4 linked regions of the Homo sapiens genome follow. The protein of the gene in region 3 purifies or fractionates together with the protein of the main gene of each other region. This does not show direct contact. Each region holds a gene or a part of one and is shown on either strand. Other genes may lie near its edges.

Region 1 (3,500 bases), on a different chromosome or scaffold from region 3:
CTTTGCTTTTAGTAAAGAAAGGACATTCTTTCCTTTACCTTTGATGGGTGTTTTTTTCTACTGGAAAATAAAACGTAGAGTAGGTTGTAAATTTTACTCCCTGTCTTGTGATTCCCAGATTTTGTCTTCTCTAAAATCTGCCTTTATTAATGATAATAGCTAACAATTATATACAATGTGCCATGAAGTGTTTTAAGTATTTTCCATTTATTAACTCAAATCCTATTCGGTAGGCATTATTGTTCTCATTTTATAGAAGAATAAACTGAGGTGCAGAGAGGTTCAATAGCTTGCCTGGGGTTGTAAAGCTAGTAAATGGCATAGATAGGATTCAAATGCAGGCAGTCAAGTGCCAAGGTGCATGTTCTGTAACCATTGCATGCTCTGCCTTTGTGTTGGCATTGGCTCTGGCACTGCATACACCAGAGCAGAGACTGATCTTCCATTTGCAGTTTGAACACGGGTCACCTTCCTCAAGGACTCCTGTCAAGGGGACTCTATATTGACTTTGTTCTTTGCTTTACAGCCTAACATAGCAAATTTCTTGAGTACCCTCCCGATTTGGCTAACAAAATCCCCTCAAAATAGAAAAGATAGGAAGAGAGGGAATGAAAATGAAATATATTTTTAAAATACCTTTGGTAGTGTTCAGAAGTCTCACCAATTTAAGCAGACCAGATTAATGTTGGCAGAAAACAGCTTTATCAGGTTACCAAAGCAAGCATAGGTACCCTACAGAGCCAAGGCTGTCCCAGAGAGGTAGTCTCTGTGATTGCTGTTCCCTGCCCCCAAGGTCTCTGGTATTTATTCATCCATGGAAAGAAAAATCTGCATGCCCTTCTGAGTCCCACAGTAAGATCCATCCTAACAGAGCAGAAGGGCAGGATGGGGAGGCACACCAGGAATGCCTCTGAAAAATAAATGTCTCAAAGATTGATGGCTTGATGATCTCTTTGGAGATTATATCAAAAATTATTGATTATGTTAGTAAGTCGTAGAAAATAGGCTCTGAGGTTGGGAACTAAGTGCTTTCTTTAAAATAATCTAGAAGCAGTAGAATAAATCAATGTGCAGAGCATCTAAAATACTGTATCATATTGGCTTCACAAATAGCTTGGCTTCAATGTGGAAAGGGCAATATTATTTTTAAAAAAAACTTCAACAGTTGTCTTGGCATGCTAAAAAGAAAAGAAGACAAAATTCAATTCTATTATTTGCTTTGCAAAATTTTACAACATTCCTAGCTTCTAGCATTCATTTATTTCCTAATCAGTGGGAAAACTGCAAGGCTTTTTAAAATAATTTGTGCCAGATAGGGCTTTTTTTTTTTCCTTTGCCACAATAAAGATACAAAAGCCTTAAAAGATATTTTGTTTTCAACAACTGAATTTGACAAACTTAGTCCTGCTCAGTTTTTTGGTGGTAGGTCTGAATTTCAGTATGTGATAATACTACTCCATTTATGCTTGTTTTGAAATATTTTCTATTTGCATTTAAGACCACCGATTCCGGTTTTTAAGAAAACAATTCCAGCAATGTATCTTGCTGAAAGAAAAACTCACTATGCAAAAGCACCAATTTTTGAATAGTTAAATTGAATGATACATTTTCATATTATGATAGCATTCTTTGCCTTGAAAGATTCACAGAAAGATTTGTAAAAAGTAACTATCCCCTTAGGGCACTTTAATGTTTATTTATAAACAGTTAACTACTTAGAGGAAGAAATAACACCAGGGAGAGTAATATGGTGTCAGAAAAGGAAGATGACTCCAAAATAATGATAAACCACAGCTCTAAAATTTTAATGTAACTTAATGAAAACTAATTCAATTGAAGCGTGTTTCAGTTTGGTATTAGCTCTGAACCTGGGAAACTTGAGTCCTGGCATTAGGGGAATCTCTTCATTTTATGGACCCTGGTTTCTTCATCTGTAAACTCAGGAGATTGGAACAGATGATCTTTAAGGCTCCTTTGAACCTGTATAATTTCTTGATTCAGTTTCCTGAAGTAAGATGTGCTTTTTGTTGGGGAATAGGAAACGGAGCATATTAAAGGCATCTGGGCCTCTGGTTACATTAGTACTTAGGGTTCTGTTCAACAAACCAGTGTTGTTTGCTTCCTGTGTGGTGGGTGCTGTACTGGATGCTGGGAATAGAGTGATGTACTTCCCATCAGGTTTCCTTAAGTAGAAGTTCAAAGTGTGAATGAGGGGGCAGACTCAGAAAAGTTCAGTTGAACTGTATTTTTCATGGGGGAAGTTTTCCTCTCTGATGACCATGGAGTCTAGACTCCTTGGGCTAAGGATCGGCAAAATTACTGTTACAGGAAGTCTTCTCAGCACAGGATAGTGAGTGGGAAATAAGGCAGAAACTTTATTTGTATTTCTCTGGAGCATTCTGGGAGTGATCCCAGTATTTCACCTTGAGAGAGTGTAACCTAACCTTCACATTCCCTTACGAGAGACTCGCTTACTTTACCGTGTTCACATGTCCACAGTGAGCCTAAAAATGTCTCCACTGCTTTGGAGCCTTTTGAGATGATGAAATAGAGACTCCTGAGGCATACAAAATACTATTAAAGCTTCTGCTAGTGTACTTCTGTGATCACTACAGAGAGGTTCTTTTGCTCCCATATTTCAGTTGACTGTGCTCTACAAAGTAGACACCCCAATCACACTGTGGGCTTCGCCACTCTGCTAGGTAGGACATTTGAACCTACTGCATCCAGAAAACCCCAAATGTATCATTTTCTTAATAAAGTTTCCTTTGAAATGACCAGCAGCCCAGTGATGTCTTTCTAGGAACTTACTGAGCAGGGTCACCAGCGGCCATCTGACTTGGTCCCTGCCCTAGTTACCAGAGCTGCTGTCCACAGGCTGCCTGTTCCACTTACTTAGCATATGCAATGTCTCTAAAGAACTGCATGTGAAATTAACTTCCTTTATAGACGCTTACTCCCTTTTTCAGCTTTTCATTTTTGCTGTCTATTAATGCCTGTAAAGTCCCTAAATTAAACTTGACTTTTTCTATCTGTAACTCCATGTTTTCTACGGGATACTTCAGCAAATGATAGCAGCAAGATATCTTACATTCCCAGGCAGAACCAGCATTTGCATGCTCAGGGTTTCACTTCAGGAGAGTCTCCTGTAAGGTGGAGCTGAAAAAAAAAAAAAAAGAAAAGCCTTGTGGGGTATGGAGAGAGCCTGAGCTCTAATCTAGAGTCTGCTAGACTCTATCAATGACTATTAAATTTAGACAGTTTCCACAGTTTCATGACTATGTGGGTTAAAAGGTAAAAACTTTTTCCTATTTTAGCCAGTAAAATTAATCAAGGAGAGGGGAGAAAGGAGGTATTCAACAAGAAAAAGTTAAGTCTATTTAGACTTAACTAATAAAGTCGAGATAGGAAAATGAGGTTTTATATTATCATTAACAAAAAGGTTATAATAATATGTGCCTTGCTAACCTTGGATATGAAAGGGTTTTATAAACCATACA
Region 2 (2,969 bases), on a different chromosome or scaffold from region 3:
GTGCTTTTAAATGTCCTTTGCCTGCATGAGGTGGAAAGGGGACCTTTTTGAGTTGTCATTTTGCACTTTCAAAACTTATTTTCTTGGAAAACAATATTTATAGGGCTTAAAGCCCATTTTCATTTCTAATCTAAATTATGTGTGCCTATCTGAAAACTTTGGGCTCTTTCTTGTTTCTTTCCCAAAATTCAGAAGTTAATGGGCTTTTATGTTTTTCTATATTTTTTTTATTTCAATGATTTGGCCTGTCTATGTTAGGCTAAAAAATAACCTTGTGTATGCTACCAACTTAAAGTGCATTATTTTGTGTCACTTTTTTTTTTCTTGTAAAAATGACTTGGATTGAAAATATGTGGTAGCCTTTTTATTTCTACATTAAGTTCTACCTAGGATATTTCCAAGGACTGCCACAAAACCCATATGTGCAGTACTTTACTACTTTGGGAAAGCTGCATCTTTCTACCACATTTTAACATCTAATATATTTAATTTCTTTGAAGAGGGTTCTGTGTACGTTATTGTAGTTCCCAGTTTAATATAGTTCTTTGTATCTCTTAACAGGTTGAAGTTATTGCAAAACACTCTGGAAAGTAATAATTACATCATAATCATTTATTTTTTAAACTTAAAAGCCTAGAAATTTCCTAGAAAGAAAATAGGAGACATCTCAGAGCAATTTGGTTTTGGTGTATATGTTCTCAACAGAAAACCAGTGTTAATGAATATCATGCCTCAGCACTGTCACTTTTAAAACCTGTCAGGATCCCACTGTAAAATTGGAAATGGGCAGTTCTGAATTTTCACGTTTGAAATGTAAAATATAAACTTCAGTCAATATCCAGGTTTATTGTGTCCTACTATTTAATAATGAGAGAAGTAATGGCAAGGCCTTTACTTTCAGGAAAGGATAGAAGTATAGATTAATGACTGGAAAGTTTTAATATATTTAGCCCAAAGGTTACTTTGAATTGAAGTCTTTGCATTGACTGTTTGTGTTTGGTTTATTTGTTTAGCTTTACAAGGTACACATAAGTTAGGTTGAGGGGTTGTTAACCCTTCCGTGGTCTGCTTTCATTCCGTGTGCTTCCTGTCACAGGTAATGGAAAACATAAGTAGAATAGGTGACCTCTTAGTTTTGAACTTATTTAAGTGTGGGGATGAATTTTTCATCAGAAGTGCTTACAGGGTTACTACCTCAGTTTACAATCTACCTGGTCATTATTTTATTTCTATCCAGTTCTAAGAACTGCCTCCACTGTTTATATATTCATAATTAAACACATTGAGAATGCAACACTATAAAAGCTGGTCAAATTTTTGCAGAGCCCTTATTCTGTGTGTTTTTTGTTTTTTTCTTTTTTTTTTGAGACAGAGTCTCGTTCGGTCCCCCAGCTTGGAGTGCAGTGGCGCGATCTCGGCTCACTGCAACCTCCGCCTCCTGGGTTCACGCGATTCTCCTGCCTCAGCCTCCCGAGTAGCTGGGATTACAGGCACACACCACCACGCCCGGCTAATTTTTTGTGTCTTTTTAGTAGAGACGGGGTTTCGCTATGTTGGCCAGACTGGTCTTGAACTGCTGACCTCGTGATCCGCCCGCCTCGGCCTCTCAAAGTGCTGGGATTCTGTGTGTTTTGTGCACCTCCACTTTAGGTAATCATAGGGAGCACATTTACAGGATGGTCTAATAACATGAAAACAGGCTAGTTTCAAGCAACAGCAATGTCGGTTGGAAAGCAGGCGTCATTTGCCTTGAAAAAAGCCTTTTGACAACATACAGGCATTCTTTTAAAACCAGGCTGAAACATTTTATTTCCGAGACTTAACGTTGTGTTTCCTGTTTCTTAAACCTAGCACCTCTGTGTATTTGAAAATAATGAGACATCTTTCATTGGATTTTGGAAAATTGTTCCCCATGGGATTCTAACCTCACTACCAAATGAGTGAAAGCTTGATTAAGAGTTCTTCCATATACTAGCCTCCTTGGAAGAAGTGATCAGAAGGTGATAAGAAGGACAGAAAGGACTATTTTAAAGTTGGACTGAAGGAGAAAAAAGCAAAATTCTTGTTTCATCCCAATTCTAGTTAGAACAAAGTTAAACCCCCGTAATCTTAAAGAGAAAATCTTTGGAGGTTTTAATTAAACATTTTATACATTTAAAGTCTTGTTAATGGTGCTTTAAGTGTCAATGTAGCATGTAAAAGGCTTTGTACAGACAGGTAAAAGTTCCATTTCTGAGTGATGAAATGTAACACTTCTTCATCTTTAACTTGAAATCAAAACTATCAGATTTTATTTTTGTATAATTTAAGGAAGGTAAAGTTAGGGGACTAGAAGACTCTAAATTGGCTTCTACAGATCAATAATTTAAATGTAACTAGTTGGGATTTTATAGTTAAAATTATATTTGTGTATATAACATAACTAATCTGTAAATTGTAATAAATATATTTGCAATTATTAAATGTTAAGTGATATTTTGGTTCAACTTTATATTATATGTATCATAGTATTTTACAATGGTTTTGGAATTACTAAGCAGGATTAGTATAATTGCAAACAACATTTTAGTAATAGAAGAACTTGGTTCTTGCAGTATTATGAGAGGCCCTTCTAAGAAACTGAAGATTTGATTCTGAAATTGGCCCTAGCTTTTCAGTTTTGCTGCAAAGAAAATTAAACTGGGTATTCACAGAAGCAATAACATTCAGATGCTGGGCTTAGCCTAGTGCTTAAGTAGCAGGGAAATCTCTGTTTTGTGCATTATTATTATTATTATTTTTTGAGACGGAGCCTCTGTCACCCAGGCTGCATTGAAGTGGCACGATCTCAGCTCACTGCAACCTCCACCTTCCGGTTTCAAGCGATTCTCCTGCCTCAGCCTCCCGAGTAGCTGGGATCACAGGCACCTGCCACCATGCCCGGCTAAATTTTGTATTTTTAGTAGAGATGGGGTTTCATCATGTTGGCC
Region 3 (3,683 bases):
ATCAAATATTTACTAAGCCCTTACTATTTGCCTGGCATTGTATCCTGGGTGCTAGAATTACGTAGAGACGAATAAGACAGCCAGGCTTGTAGCCTGGATAAGGCAACCGGGATGGAGGCAATCCCAGTTCTTGATCTTAGGACTTTTATTTTTCATTTATTCATAATAGACTCCCGAAATCCCCTTCTGGTTGAGCTGCCCCAGTCCTTGCCCACTGAAAACCCACAAGGCTATTAGGGGGAGACAAAACTGTAAACCGAAAATTCCAAAGCAGCATGCGAACCGCAACAATGGTGGCCCCTAGATGTAGGAAGGAAATGAGGAGGGACTGAGGAACTGGAGCAGGGGAGTTCCGCGGCGGCTGGGTGGGTGAAGGCACCTGAAAGGGACGATGCGTGGGCTGAATTACAGAAAATAAACAGGAATTCCTATATAAAGAAAAAGCAGAGAAAAGGCATTTCAGATCACAGGAAGCATCACATGCAAAGCCAAAGAAACAGGAAATTGCTAGTTCCAGCTTCTGCCATTAACTGGCTCTTTTTAACCTTTCTGGAATTTCCTCAGGTCCCTCTGGGATTTCAGTCTTCACATCTCAGAAAATGAAGGTCGGGGGTGGAAAGAAGGAATCTATATTTCGGGAAGGTGCTTTCTAACTGGATACCTCCGTGCTAGAGCAAAAAAAAAGGGGTAGTTTTAAAAACGTCAAGTGTTATTTTAGGGCAGGAGCCAGAAGCCCCATGTTTTGTAACTATCAAGATGACAGGCAGAGCCTGCAGCCATTCAGAGGCTTTCTCCACTTGATCTTAGCCAAAAGACCAAGAAGCGATCAGAAATTTTCTCAACGATTAATTTACCCACTTCACCAGTACTTAGGGCATGGACTGAGCCAGGGCCTATGCTATCAAAAAGAGCACAGTCTAGCAGAGGGAGACAGACAGTAAATAAGTATATAAATAACTGGAAACCATATTGGTCTGCACGCTGCGAGTGCGTGGGGACAGGAAAACAGAAGCTCCCAGGACGTGCAGGTCACGTCCAGGTTACATGCAGGGTGAGTGACGGTTTATCTCCTAGCCAAATTAACTTCCTGTTTCCTCGTCCAGCCTCACCTTCTCCAAGAAGCCAGAAACATTTTCAGCCGCCAATTTTTCCTTGGCAGGACGACAGGGTGCCCTCTCTTCACCTGCAACCTTTCCCAGGCCTTGCCTGGGGCTCCACGCACTCACTGCAAATGCGGGTCCCAGAGCTGACCACAAGGTGCCTGCTCCCGCGACAGCTTCGCGCAGACCTGAGCGCCCAGTGCATGCAGACCTCCCGGCGTCGTGGGAGAGGGTGGCGGGAAGGCGGGCTGTGCAGCACCTCCGGGTTGGGCCGCTGGCGGCTGGGCGGGACTCAGCCTACGGTATAAGAGGGGAGCGCCACTCTCCTGGCCGCAGTACTGAAGGTGGCGCCTCGGCAGCGGGCTAGAGGCCACTGGCACTGAGCTTGCAACCAGATCCAGAGACACTGAAGAAGAGAGAAAGGTCTGAAGCGGGGCTGATTTGTTGTGGGTGCAGGGGAGAGGAAGGCTGGAACTGGTCTGGGGTCTTAAACACGTGGGGGACGTTTACAGGGTCTGGGGGAGGGATCCAGCCGCGTCGAGGGGCTGCAGCAGCTCCAGGCGCCCAAACTCAGCAGCTTCTCTCCCCCGCAGGCGCACCTCTTCCCGCCACTCCTAGCCCCAGCCTCCAAGGATGCGGCTCCTCGAGAAACTCTGTTCCTCGGCCGCAGGCAGCTCCGCGCCGAAGCCCGCCTTCGCCAAAGTGCTCACGCCGAATCGCATCCCCGAATTCTGCATCCCGCCGCGGCTGCCGGCCCCTTGCACGCTCGAGTCTCCAATCCGGGCCGCCGCCGTGCCCCGGCGCTGCGCCGCTGAAAGCGACCTGTGGCCCCGCGCGGCAGACGAGGACGCCGGCCGCACGGACTGGGACCCGCGCTCGCAGGCAGCGCTGTCACTGCCGCACCTGCCCCGTGTGCGCACCACCTACGGCTTCTGCGCGCTGCTCGAGAGCCCGCACACGCGCCGCAAGGAGTCGCTCCTGCTCGGGGGCCCGCCCGCGCCCCGGCCCCGGGCCCACAGCTGCGGCGGCGGCGGAGGCCCGGACGCCCCCCTGGGGACCCTGTGCGGCCCGCGAGGTCCGGGCCCGGCCACCCCCGCGGCCCCCGGCGGTCCCCGCCTGCCCCAGGACGCGCTCGCTGCGGGGCCCCGCCGCTGCCGCCTCCTGCGCGTCCCCGACGGGCTGCTGAGTCGCGCGCTGCGGGCTGGAAGGAGTCGCCGCCTGGCCCGCGTCCGCTCCGTCTCCAGCGGGAACGAGGACGAGGAGCGCCGCGCGGGATCCGAGTCCCCGGCCCGGGCCCCCTCCTCGAGCCCGCTGTCATCCAGGGCCCCGCTTCCTGAGCGCCTGGAGGCCAAGGGCACCGTGGCTCTGGGCCGCGCCGGCGACGCCCTGCGCCTGGCTGCTGAGTACTGTCCGGGAACCCGGCGTCTCCGCCTCCGGCTGCTCCGCGCGGAGAGCCTGTTCGGAGGCGCCCCCGGGCCCCGCGCCGTCCGCTGCCGCCTCAGCCTCGTCCTGCGGCCGCCGGGCACTGCGCGTTGGCAATGCAGCGCTGTGGTGGGGCGCAGCCGCAAGGCCTCCTTTGACCAGGACTTTTGCTTCGACGGCCTCTCGGAAGACGAGGTGCGCCGCCTGGCCGTTCGCGTCAAGGCCCGGGATGAGGGTCGCGGCCGGGATCGGGGCCGCCTGCTGGGCCAGGGTGAGCTGTCCCTGGGCGCCCTCCTGCTGCTCTGAGGGCCCAGCCCTCCCCGGGGCGCTCTGCCCTGGAGACTCCGGACACTGACAGCCGCGTGGTACAGAATAAACGTTATTTATTTTTTTATTTATGATACTGCTTTATTGACGTTTTACTTCCTCACCATCCACATTTGTCATCGTCTATTGGTAAAGAAGAAAAAGATAATGACTCCCTGTTCTGTTCACAGGACCCCCATATCTCTTTCCAGACCATTTTTGCATTCCAAGGAAAAATGGGTTGGCTTGGGACTGGGAGAGAAAGGAAGTACACCCATCTGCATTGTTTTTAATTCCTTCCGGTTTTCTATCAATGTTACAGTTTTTTTTTAATAAAGCAAGTTATTCATTCAGAGTCATGCCCAACGTTACGATTCATATACACAGCTTTACATATTGATGCGGCATAGGTAATATCCTAATTTGTGTTTGCGCACGCGCACACATCAGAGTGAGACACTTGTATTATAAGGATGTATATACCCTGGTGGGAAGAAAATTTTTTTGTAGAAAGTTTTCTTTTGGAAGTGAGTTTTTCAAAAATTGGTGAGGAAAACAGGGAAGTGGAGGACCTTCCAATAGATGGGTTATCTAGGGAATAGCTATTCCTGGGGTCTCTCTCTTCCTTACCTAGGAAATCTTAGAAATCTTTCTTGCCTCTGTAAACAAGATGATACTTTTTGTGGCATTTTCTCACCTAGCTATGTATCTAATTACACACTAATTAGCTTTGCGGTAGGATTTCCTAGATGAGTTAAAAAGTAAGTAGTCAGTTTCTTGAACACTGGGTTCTAGAGAGTGTTTTTAAAAATCCAATTGATTTTCATTTGTTAATTCAACAAATAAACCTAAGTC
Region 4 (3,500 bases), on a different chromosome or scaffold from region 3:
CCCTAGAGGTTCAGTGTTCTGCATTGCGAGACTAGCCCTAGGTTTAGAAACCTAGTGACATAGGCTTGCTGTACAGAACAGTATGCAGTGTGTCAGCTGACACTGGTGTTGGTTTCACGATCCGAAGGAAATGGAATATAATTGCCGTCCTTGTCACACCTTGAGCATTATGGTAAGCAGGTGCTTTCTGGTGCAACTGTTTGTGGTTGAACAGTGTTTATGACTAATATCTGCCATCGTTTTTAAGAGTGTTTTTAAAGGAAAGGGCAACTCTTGTCTGGCCTATTTTTCTATCTTCCTATTAAAACCTGTGGTATGACGTGGACAGAATGTAACTCTAGATGTTTACAATTAACTGTTTTCATTGTAATCTGTTTCTTGCTACTCAAACTGTGTAACCGTGGGATTTCTTATGTAGGATATCTATAATATTTGTGCTGAGTCATTTTGAGTTAAGTGAATGGGGTAAAGTTCTATTTTTAGCCCGTCAAGGCCTAGTGAGGGCACTGGCTTAGCAGAACTCTCCATCACGCGCATCTGTTTGGGTTATGCCCACCAATAAGGACTTGATTCCAGTTTAAATAGGACTTTGGTCACTGAATAAATCTAAAGTTTCTGAGAAATACATTGACTTTTTTTGTCCACTGTAAAAAAATTTTTTTTTCTTCCTGTGAGAAATTGAGACTCTTAAAAGTTAAAGTCTACTAATGAAAGATTATTTGCTTGTGCCTGTTTTCTACATTCATTTTTCTTTAAAGGTTGACTCTTATTTTTACCCTCCCAAATCCAGACTCTTCTATGTACTCTCCTTAAATTTTAAACTCCCAAGCTTTGTATAGAAGTCGATAATCTGGTCCAGATGCTGAAAAGAAGACAAAGCTTTCACATTTGCAATATTGGCTTCATTTTCTGGACTTCTGTTGTTTTAATCATGAGTGTTCATGTTTCTTTAAAACAGAAAAAAAAAAAATCACCTTGTTTTCTTCAGGGTGTGAGCTCCTAGAGAACTAAGATGAGGTTTTGTGATTTTCCTTTGTTTTAAGTCTGGTATAAGATCTCGCTCACATAAATATTTAATACTCTTTTTGATGGTGACTGACTTTTGGTCGTATGATGGACATTTAGGCCCTTAAATCTGCCCCATGAGCAAGATGACACACCTTTGGAAAAACAGAAGCTATTCTGGGAGGTACATGAATATGTTCACATTTTATCACTAAGTTTCATTTAATATGCCTTATTAGTAATAAGCATGTATACCAATTTGTATCTACAAACCTATAATTTTTAAACTGTAGTATTCACGTAAATATTGGTAAGATATTTATTTTGGAATGTGGATGATTTGTAAAACCTGTGTATTAAAACAAAAGTATACAAATACCTGATTTGTACATACCTGGCTGTAACCTAATGTGTCTTTTTGTTGTCATGCAGAGCTCTGGTATCGAGACTTTAGTGGAGGAGCTCTGCTCCAGACTGAAAGACCTTCAGAGTAAGCAAGGTGAGGTCAAAAGCACTGTGCGCACACATGCCAGGATTACATCCCTGAGGAATCTGGATTGGGGAAAATCTTAGAATTGATCAGAAAAGAAAACAACCAGAACAAAGTCTTTGTGTCCAGTGTGTGTCACTAGGCCAGCCTCATGCTCCATCTGCAGCTCTGTTAGTGGCTTCTGTGTCAGACCCAGCAGTCACTCATAGAGATTCCTGCAACCAAGGGAGGGACTTAGTCCACAGGTGCCCTCAGAGATAGGAAACACTTCATGGTTTTCTGTTTTTTGGGTTTTTTTAATTGTTGTTGGCTTCAAGTTGAAGCTCAGAGATCAGGAACAATATTGTCTCTTTCCTTTCCCCATCCTTGCCCCTCTGTTAATATCTGCCTGTTGATGTTAAGACTGCTAAATTACGACATTAAATTAAGATGTTAAGACATGAATTACTTCAGGTTTGGAAGGGACTTCTGTTTTGACTCAGCTTTTTTGAAAACACAGACTTGGCAAGCTTATTTAGTTATTTCGATATATGAATCCTCCTCATACTTTTTCTAACTTGTTTGCAATCCCTAAGAACGAGACCTTCATATTAAGGGTGAGGATCCTTGTTTCCTTGCCCTCTTTATGGTCATTTTGCTGCCCACCAAGCCTTGAGCCTGCCTCTTAAGGGCACAGTTGATTTGTAACCTAAGGCAGTATCCTAGGCTAAACTAAGGGATAGCCCTTTTTCCTGTTTCAGTTGAAATAGCCCTTGCTCACCTACATGTTAAGTAATAGAGCAAATTGTAATAAAGAATATTCTTTACAGATTAGTTTTGGTCAAGATGAGTCAATGTAAAGTCTATGAGTGTAGAATTTTGTGAGAAAATAGTTTTGGAATCTAAACAGATGTTCTGTCCTTCTGGTCTAATTAATAAGTACACAGGGGACTTCAGTCTCTTAATTAAGTGCCTCTAGAGCACTGTATCAGTGACGAGATGAACAACTCTCACCTCTTGGCCTAATGCTAATGTGGTTTAATCGGAGAATTCCCTCTGGCACACTGAAAAAATAGATTTTTATTAAAAAGATCGGTATTGAGTTTGCCTTTTAAGCACCAAAGTCTCTATTTCTTGTTAAAATTAGTTGAGAAACTTTGAAATACATTAGCATTTATTAACTAGATATAAGACAAATCTTTCTTAATTTTTGTTTCATAACAGAAGAGAAGATTCACAAAAAGTTAGAGGGGTCTCCCTCTCCAGAGGCAGAATTATCCCCTCCAGCAAAGGATCAAGTGGAAATGTATGTAAGATTGTATTCGGTAATAAAGTGTGCATTTGTTAAAATCAGATGAATAACTGCTACATGGTTTCCGTTTTCTGTTTGTCATCTTGTTTAGTTTCATTATATATAATGTAAGAAACATTTATCGAGCGCTTATATGCTTGACACTGAGAATTCAAAGGTGAAACAAGATGGTTCTGTCCTTGGTGTTCATATTCAATATTTGTGGAACAAATGAGTGAAACATAGAAGGTTATTATTTGCTAAGTCTATGTATGTACTATTACCTTTAATATTCACAACAGCCCTTTGAGACAGCTGTGAGAAATTAGGATTATCAGCCGGGCACAGTGGCTCATGTCAGTAATCCCAGCACTTTGGGAAGCCAAGGCAGGTGGATCACCTGAGGTCAGGAGTTTGAGACCAGCCTGGTCAACATGGTGAAACCCAGTCTCAAATATTAGTTGAGCATGGTGGTACATGCCTGTAATCCCAGCTACTCAGGAGACCGAGGCAGGAGAATTTCTGGAACCCGGGAGGCAGAGGTTGCAGTGAGCTGAGACTGTGCCATTGCACTCCAGCCTGGACGACAGAGCGAGACTCTGTCTTATTAAAAAAAAAAAAAAAAAAAAAAACAAGAAAGAAAAGAAATGATTATCCATGTTCACAAGCAAGAACACTGAGTTCCCACTGTTTACTGCAGAGGGAACATAGGCAATCCTTGACCTGCCAAACCTG

The links.
Region 1: the proteins of C2CD4B (region 3) and FAT3 purify together in Homo sapiens (affinity purification with mass spectrometry; one large-scale study listed by BioGRID and IntAct). This does not show direct contact.
Region 2: the proteins of C2CD4B (region 3) and PPP1R15B purify together in Homo sapiens (affinity purification with mass spectrometry; one large-scale study listed by BioGRID and IntAct). This does not show direct contact.
Region 4: the proteins of C2CD4B (region 3) and KIAA0232 purify together in Homo sapiens (affinity purification with mass spectrometry; one large-scale study listed by BioGRID and IntAct). This does not show direct contact.

The regions. Positions count from the first base shown.
Region 1 is NC_000011.10:92,346,818-92,350,317, forward strand, and holds part of FAT3 (protocadherin Fat 3 isoform 1 precursor), read left to right. Parts: intron 1-3,500.
Region 2 is NC_000001.11:204,402,881-204,405,849, reverse strand, and holds the end of PPP1R15B (protein phosphatase 1 regulatory subunit 15B), read left to right. Parts: 3' UTR 1-2,469; downstream 2,470-2,969. UniProt on the Homo sapiens protein: Maintains low levels of EIF2S1 phosphorylation in unstressed cells by promoting its dephosphorylation by PP1.
Region 3 is NC_000015.10:62,163,035-62,166,717, reverse strand, and holds C2CD4B (C2 calcium-dependent domain-containing protein 4B), read left to right. Parts: upstream 1-1,432; 5' UTR 1,433-1,523; intron 1,524-1,693; 5' UTR 1,694-1,733; coding exon 1,734-2,828; 3' UTR 2,829-3,183; downstream 3,184-3,683.
Region 4 is NC_000004.12:6,855,727-6,859,226, forward strand, and holds part of KIAA0232 (uncharacterized protein KIAA0232), read left to right. Parts: intron 1-74; exon of another isoform or gene 75-130; coding exon of another isoform or gene 131-172; intron 173-1,437; coding exon 1,438-1,504; intron 1,505-2,698; coding exon 2,699-2,780; intron 2,781-3,500.